Linked DNA regions of Homo sapiens. The protein of the gene in region 2 interacts with the protein of the main gene of each other region in a biochemical or structural test. Each region holds a gene or a part of one and is shown on either strand. Other genes may lie near its edges.

Region 1 (3,821 bases), on a different chromosome or scaffold from region 2:
GCTTCTCTGTTAGGTATAGAGAGGGACTGGGTGAGAGAGGGAGACCAGTTAGGAGGCTCTTAGAATAATCGAGGTGAGAGCCGATGGTAACCTGAATCATGTGGAAGGAATGGAGATGGCAAGAGGTGGTTGGATTCTGGGTATTTATTTAAGGTAGAGCCAATACAACCTGCTGATTGGATGTAGAGGGTAAGCGTGTGAGATCATGGATGATTATAAGGTTTTTGGCCTAAGCAACTGGAAGATTTGGAGGTGCCAGCAACTGCAATATGGGAAACGTAGGGATGAAGCCTTTGGGAGGCGTAAAGGTGAAGAATGAAGTTTTGGGTAGTGAAGTTTGAGATGTCTATTACGCATCCAAGTGGAGATGTTGAATACAGTTGTCGAGTTTAGGGCAGAAGTCCAGGCTTGAATTAGAAATTTGGGAGTCACCAGTGTTGGTAACGGAGAGAAGAGGACTGTGAATGGAACCTGGGCCATTCCAAAGTTAAGTAGTTGGTAATAAATGCAGTGCTGGGGGCTGGTCGTAGTATTTTGTGATTGCTGCTTATTTCTTAATGAAATAGGAAGCTAGATCCTCTCCTGAGAGAGAGGATGGAAGAGGAGGTGTTGGGAATTTGAGGAGAGAAATTGGCTCATGTGCATTTCTTTAATTCCGCTGCCCTGGTGCAGGCATGGAGTTGGTAGACAGTTGGGTTTAACCAGGACTGGGAGTTTTGCAGGTGACCATGATGAAGGGAGAAAGAAAGAGTTGATTTTGTGAAGACCCAGCATAATTTAAGCTGGCCAAGGAGGAGGGAAGCAAGGACATGAAGGGAGAGAATTCCAGTGACGTGGGGGAGCAGTCCTTTGTAGGTTCTAGTAGGGCAGAAGAATATTTGGACTCGGAGTGCCAGAGGGACTGAACTGGGAAGACAGGAGGTGCTTGAAATTGAAAGTGTGGTGAGGTTGCAGTTACTGGTATTGACAAAATCCGAGATATGATTGGGGAACTAGAGGATGAAGTAGGATGGATGATAGAATCATTGCAGGACCGAAGTTCAAAGAAATGAGAGGTATTAGTATTATTTTTAATGAACAGTTAACTTCCTCCCATGTTGTTGTTGTTGTTGTTGTTATTATTATTATTTGGACGGTGTCTCGCTCTTATTGCCCAGGCTGGAGTGCAGTGGCGCAATCTCTGCTCACTGCAACCTCCACCTCCCAGATTCAAGTGATTCTCCTGCCTCAGCCTTCCGAGTAGCTGGAATTACAGGTGCCCACCACCACATCTGGCTAATTTTTTGTATTTTTAGTAGACACGGGGTTTTGCCATGTTGGCCAGGCTGGTCTTGAACTCTCCTGACCTCAGGTGATCCACTCGCCTCAGCCTCCTAAAGTGCTGGGATTACAGGCGTGAGCCACTGTGCCCGCCCCCGCCCCCATGTTATTATTTGGAAATTTAAGAGAAGTGGGGGTTGTTAGGCAGTGGGGGGAAGGAGGATTAGAGCAGTCTATACAAATCTTGATTACATTTTTCTGTACCTTATATCCTGATACCGGCAAGCTAATCGATATTACAGGTCCATATCATGAGCATTCTCATAGCTGGTATTTCTTCTTAATGCAGTAACTATTGGTACTTCAGAGATGAATGCATTCTTGGATGACCCAGAATTTGCCGATATTATGCTGAGAGCAGAGCAAGCAATAGAAGTTGGAATTTTTCCAGAAAGAATCTCTCAAGGTTCAAGTGGAAGTTACTTTGTGAAGGATCCTAAGAGGGTGAGAATTTCACAGACCTATTATATGTAATGGAAACTTTGGTAAATACTAATTTAAATATGAAATCATTGTGAGTTTCTAAAGATATTTTCCTATTAAGTCTGATTGTAACCTCTTTTCCAAAACAAAGGTCAGTTTTTGTTTGTTTTTTGAGACGCCCGGGGTCGCCCTCTCTTACCCAGGCTGGAGTGCAGTGGTGCAATCATAGCTCACTGTAACCTTGACCACCTGGGCTCAGGCAATCCTCCCATCTCAGCCTCCCAAGTAGGTGGGACCATAGTTGCGTGCCACCACACTGGGCTAATTTTTGTAATTATTTGTAGAGACGGTGGTCTCCCTATATTGCCCTGGCTGGTCTTGAACTCCTGGGCTCAAGCAAACCTCGGCTTTGGCTCCCAAAGTGTTGAGATTACAGGTGTGAGCCACTGTGCCCAGCCTCAATGTTTTGCTTTTACTAAAGCACTCTAGTGCTTAGAAACAGAGCTAATCAGTTCAAGTCACAGTTTGCTATTTTGTTATTTTATACTTGGTTTCAAGCATTTATTGAATACCCACATTCAGCTGTAGCCTTTTTGAGTATATATATTCACAAGTCCTTATCTTATGGAAGTCTATAACCTTAATAGCCAAACACGGTGGAAGGTTAAACCTTCAAAAGTTGTTTAATGTCATTTCCAAAGTACTTGATTTTTTTTCAAAGGTATGTGAATACCTTTTCTGGCATTTTACCAGGGGAAGGAGGCTTAGCAATCTGAAGCTTGAAAGTATTGGAATGTGAAAGTGAAATGAACCACAGGATGATTCTAAAGTGGAAAAGAGAAGTTGATGTGGCACTTTGCTCCACTTAGTCTAGAATTTTTCAAAAATATGTTATTTTTTCTAAAAGCTTTCTGAATGATGCATAATGAGCAGTTCTTTTCTCCAGGGGAATAACGTTTATAATTTCACCCAATTTTTTTGGCAAAGATAGAAGTTCTATTTTTAAAATGATTTTAAAGCATAGTCCCTTTTTTAAGATTAAAATGTATTTGAAGGTACTGTCAATCTCTCAATCTTTATTCTAAGCTTGATTTCTTAATTTGATCTTGTTGACTTTTTTACTAGTGACTCAGACCTTATTGCATTATATTTATTGTGTTATAAAGCAATTATATACTTAAAATTATAATAAGATTTGTTCTTGTCTAAGGATAATTCAGCTTCTAAATTGAATATGAGTATATTGTATCAAACAATAAGAGTACAGAGACTTTTAGACATTCATGAGCAAAAAAAGATTTTTTAATACGAGAGAATTTAATCAATTTATTTGTTAAGATGGATTCTCACTCTGTCGCCCAGGCTGGAGTGCAGTAGCACAGTCTCGGCTCACTGCAACCTCCACCTCCCGGGTTCAAGCGATTATCCTGCCACAGCCTCCTGAGTAGCCGGGATTACAGGCGCTCGCCACCACGCCGAGCTAATTGTTGTATTTTGAGTAGAGACGGGATTTCCCCATGTTGACCAGGCTGGTCTCCTGACCTCAAGTGATCTGCTCACCTCCCAAAGTGCTGGGATTACAGGTGTGAGCCACAGCGCCTGGCCAAGAGTTTACTTTAAATTGGTTCCTGAAAAAATAGCTGGAAAAGAATTAGGGTACGAGAATCTGACAGCATGGATGTACACTGTATCTTATCATTATATTTGTATTTTAGAGGTAGTTTTTGTCATTGGATTAGTTAATTTAACAAATACTTGGATGTCCACTGTTCATCAGATACTGTTCTGACTACTGGAAATGCAGCCCTAACAAACCAAGTCCTTGCCTTATTAGAATGTACATTAATGTGGGGAAAGTAAACAGCAAACATGTAATGTGGATATTTAATAGATAGTGAATAATAACACTGTTTGACCTAGAATGGTGGTTTTGAAACATTTAAAAATCAGTGAAAGTCTTTCCTTTTTTTTTTTTTTGAGACAGAGTCTCGCTCTGTCACCCAGGCTGGAGTGCAGTGGTGCGATCTCCGCTCACTGCAAGCTCTGCCTCCTGGGTTCATGCCATTCTCCAGCCTCAG
Region 2 (4,572 bases):
ATGGTACTGATAGCTGTCGACTTGCTGGAGAAGATGCTTGTATTGGACTCAGATAAGAGAATTACAGCGGCCCAAGCCCTTGCACATGCCTACTTTGCTCAGTACCACGATCCTGATGATGAACCAGTGGCCGATCCTTATGATCAGTCCTTTGAAAGCAGGGACCTCCTTATAGATGAGTGGAAAAGTAAGTCCTAAGGGTAGGATTAACATCTTGAACCACTAACCAAAAGCGGTGGGAAAAATAAAAACTGAATGGTCATAACCAACTTGCTAAAGCTTGTAGATGAGGTCTCTAATGCAGAATGAATATGTTCTCTGGTGGAAACTGTTGTAGACAGTGATACTCTCTGGACCTTTGAGATACTTATGTCTGGTCTGATTTTATGCACAGCCCCTCACATAGGAGTTTTGCATGGAGAGTTGAGGTTTTCAGAGTCATTGCATTTACAACATCTCTCTGAGCTTTTACAGTTTTACAATTAGTAGAACTGGGGCAAAGAGAATTTATGTCTTATCAGTTAACTTAGAACTAGTTAGGGACATAGCCAGGAATGGAACCCATGTATCCTGTGTCCAGTCCCATATTCTTTCCACAAAACACAAGTTCAGAACTCTAGTTAAATCCCAAGAGCCAAGACCATCTGTTGCTGTAGCTTGTGAGAGTGCTCTTTCATTCTTGAGCACCTCCGTAGAGAGCTTAAAAGAAGAGGCACTCAGCGATGAAAAACATGAGAAAAAAAATGGTTCTTTTCTATGTCCCTTGAACTTCTGTGTGATAACGTGTTCCAGTAGGCTATTACATACAAGCTGTGAGGTAGCCCATCAAACCACTACCTGGACAGAGAGGAAGGATCTTGAGCTTAGAAGTCAGAGTGCTTGCCAGCAAAGAGAATAGCCTAAACTCTCACATCTTACTTTTCCTTCCCAATTTCTAGGCCTGACCTATGATGAAGTCATCAGCTTTGTGCCACCACCCCTTGACCAAGAAGAGATGGAGTCCTGAGCACCTGGTTTCTGTTCTGTTGATCCCACTTCACTGTGAGGGGAAGGCCTTTTCACGGGAACTCTCCAAATATTATTCAAGTGCCTCTTGTTGCAGAGATTTCCTCCATGGTGGAAGGGGGTGTGCGTGCGTGTGCGTGCGTGTTAGTGTGTGTGCATGTGTGTGTCTGTCTTTGTGGGAGGGTAAGACAATATGAACAAACTATGATCACAGTGACTTTACAGGAGGTTGTGGATGCTCCAGGGCAGCCTCCACCTTGCTCTTCTTTCTGAGAGTTGGCTCAGGCAGACAAGAGCTGCTGTCCTTTTAGGAATATGTTCAATGCAAAGTAAAAAAATATGAATTGTCCCCAATCCCGGTCATGCTTTTGCCACTTTGGCTTCTCCTGTGACCCCACCTTGACGGTGGGGCGTAGACTTGACAACATCCCACAGTGGCACGGAGAGAAGGCCCATACCTTCTGGTTGCTTCAGACCTGACACCGTCCCTCAGTGATACGTACAGCCAAAAAGGACCAACTGGCTTCTGTGCACTAGCCTGTGATTAACTTGCTTAGTATGGTTCTCAGATCTTGACAGTATATTTGAAACTGTAAATATGTTTGTGCCTTAAAAGGAGAGAAGAAAGTGTAGATAGTTAAAAGACTGCAGCTGCTGAAGTTCTGAGCCGGGCAAGTCGAGAGGGCTGTTGGACAGCTGCTTGTGGGCCCGGAGTAATCAGGCAGCCTTCATAGGCGGTCATGTGTGCATGTGAGCACATGCGTATATGTGCGTCTCTCTTTCTCCCTCACCCCCAGGTGTTGCCATTTCTCTGCTTACCCTTCACCTTTGGTGCAGAGGTTTCTTGAATATCTGCCCCAGTAGTCAGAAGCAGGTTCTTGATGTCATGTACTTCCTGTGTACTCTTTATTTCTAGCAGAGTGAGGATGTGTTTTGCACGTCTTGCTATTTGAGCATGCACAGCTGCTTGTCCTGCTCTCTTCAGGAGGCCCTGGTGTCAGGCAGGTTTGCCAGTGAAGACTTCTTGGGTAGTTTAGATCCCATGTCACCTCAGCTGATATTATGGCAAGTGATATCACCTCTCTTCAGCCCCTAGTGCTATTCTGTGTTGAACACAATTGATACTTCAGGTGCTTTTGATGTGAAAATCATGAAAAGAGGAACAGGTGGATGTATAGCATTTTTATTCATGCCATCTGTTTTCAACCAACTATTTTTGAGGAATTATCATGGGAAAAGACCAGGGCTTTTCCCAGGAATATCCCAAACTTCGGAAACAAGTTATTCTCTTCACTCCCAATAACTAATGCTAAGAAATGCTGAAAATCAAAGTAAAAAATTAAAGCCCATAAGGCCAGAAACTCCTTTTGCTGTCTTTCTCTAAATATGATTACTTTAAAATAAAAAAGTAACAAGGTGTCTTTTCCACTCCTATGGAAAAGGGTCTTCTTGGCAGCTTAACATTGACTTCTTGGTTTGGGGAGAAATAAATTTTGTTTCAGAATTTTGTATATTGTAGGAATCCTTTGAGAATGTGATTCCTTTTGATGGGGAGAAAGGGCAAATTATTTTAATATTTTGTATTTTCAACTTTATAAAGATAAAATATCCTCAGGGGTGGAGAAGTGTCGTTTTCATAACTTGCTGAATTTCAGGCATTTTGTTCTACATGAGGACTCATATATTTAAGCCTTTTGTGTAATAAGAAAGTATAAAGTCACTTCCAGTGTTGGCTGTGTGACAGAATCTTGTATTTGGGCCAAGGTGTTTCCATTTCTCAATCAGTGCAGTGATACATGTACTCCAGAGGGACAGGGTGGACCCCCTGAGTCAACTGGAGCAAGAAGGAAGGAGGCAGACTGATGGCGATTCCCTCTCACCCGGGACTCTCCCCCTTTCAAGGAAAGTGAACCTTTAAAGTAAAGGCCTCATCTCCTTTATTGCAGTTCAAATCCTCACCATCCACAGCAAGATGAATTTTATCAGCCATGTTTGGTTGTAAATGCTCGTGTGATTTCCTACAGAAATACTGCTCTGAATATTTTGTAATAAAGGTCTTTGCACATGTGACCACATACGTGTTAGGAGGCTGCATGCTCTGGAAGCCTGGACTCTAAGCTGGAGCTCTTGGAAGAGCTCTTCGGTTTCTGAGCATAATGCTCCCATCTCCTGATTTCTCTGAACAGAAAACAAAAGAGAGAATGAGGGAAATTGCTATTTTATTTGTATTCATGAACTTGGCTGTAATCAGTTATGCCGTATAGGATGTCAGACAATACCACTGGTTAAAATAAAGCCTATTTTTCAAATTTAGTGAGTTTCTCAAGTTTATTATATTTTTCTCTTGTTTTTATTTAATGCACAATATGGCATTATATCAATATCCTTTAAACTGTGACCTGGCATACTTGTCTGACAGATCTTAATACTACTCCTAACATTTAGAAAATGTTGATAAAGCTTCTTAGTTGTACATTTTTTGGTGAAGAGTATCCAGGTCTTTGCTGTGGATGGGTAAAGCAAAGAGCAAATGAACGAAGTATTAAGCATTGGGGCCTGTCTTATCTACACTCGAGTGTAAGAGTGGCCGAAATGACAGGGCTCAGCAGACTGTGGCCTGAGGGCCAAATCTGGCCCACCACCTGTTTGGTGTAGCCTGCTAAGAATGGCTTTTACATTTTTAAATGGTTGGGAAAGAAAAAAAAAGAAGTAGTAGATTTTGTAGCATGTGATGTAAGTAATGTAAAACTTAAATTCCAGTATCCATAAATAAAGTTTTATGAGAACAGAGCCGCACTCATCTGTTTATGTATTGTCTGTGGCTGCTTTTGTGCTACAGTGACAGAGGCAAATAGTTGCAGCAGAGACTATAGGACCTCCAAAATGTCAACCATTTACCATCTGGCCCTTTAGAGAAGTCTGCTGACCCTTGGCCCAGGGCTACAGTTTTCTCATCTATAAAGTGAAGTTCAGGTTTTTTTCATCTTTGACATTTGAGACTATCTATAAGCCATATATTTTTATTATAAAACTGCCAGAGAGAAGGTTTGGTTTGTATATATAGGTGTACATTGTTTGTAAGCTTTTAGGCGAATGTATTTTATGACTCTGTTTTGTCTTAGCTGGCTACGGTCCTTGAAAATATTCTTCAGAATGACTGAATTGCATCACGGGATGAAAGAGCCACGGGGTCTCACAGCTGAGTTCTCAGGGACTTTGCTGATGTGCTTCCTTTCTTGGTGTCCTTGGAATGACACCCAGCAGGTGTCCCAGGGTGGATTGTGGGGCTCAGCCTGTGAGGATATTGAGAGCTGGGTTTTTGTCCAGGCCCTGGCTGGCAGCTGGGAATGAAGGCAGTGATCGAAGGCAGACCAAGCATAGTCTCCTTTCCATCCCCAGTGACTTCGTAAGGAGGTGAGAGAAAAGGGCCCCGGTTGTTACATGGGGTCCTTTAGCTCCTGTTAAGAATCAGACAGTTGGCCGGGCGTGGTGGCTCACGCCTGTAATCTCAGCACTTTGGGAGGCTGAGGCGGGCAGATCACGAGGTCAGGAGATCGAGACCATCCT

The links. The genes of interacting proteins can lie anywhere in the genome.
Region 1: of the proteins of MAPK14 (region 2) and PI4K2B, one has a biochemical effect on the other in vitro, tested with the Homo sapiens proteins (one study listed by BioGRID).

Annotation. Positions count from the first base shown.
Region 1 is NC_000004.12:25,250,712-25,254,532, forward strand, and holds part of PI4K2B (phosphatidylinositol 4-kinase type 2-beta), read left to right. Parts: intron 1-1,609; coding exon 1,610-1,764; intron 1,765-3,821. UniProt on the Homo sapiens protein: Together with PI4K2A and the type III PI4Ks (PIK4CA and PIK4CB) it contributes to the overall PI4-kinase activity of the cell. This contribution may be especially significant in plasma membrane, endosomal and Golgi compartments.
Region 2 is NC_000006.12:36,107,442-36,112,013, forward strand, and holds the end of MAPK14 (mitogen-activated protein kinase 14), read left to right. Parts: intron 1-13; coding exon 14-187; intron 188-938; coding exon 939-1,006; 3' UTR 1,007-3,795; downstream 3,796-4,572. UniProt on the Homo sapiens protein: Serine/threonine kinase which acts as an essential component of the MAP kinase signal transduction pathway.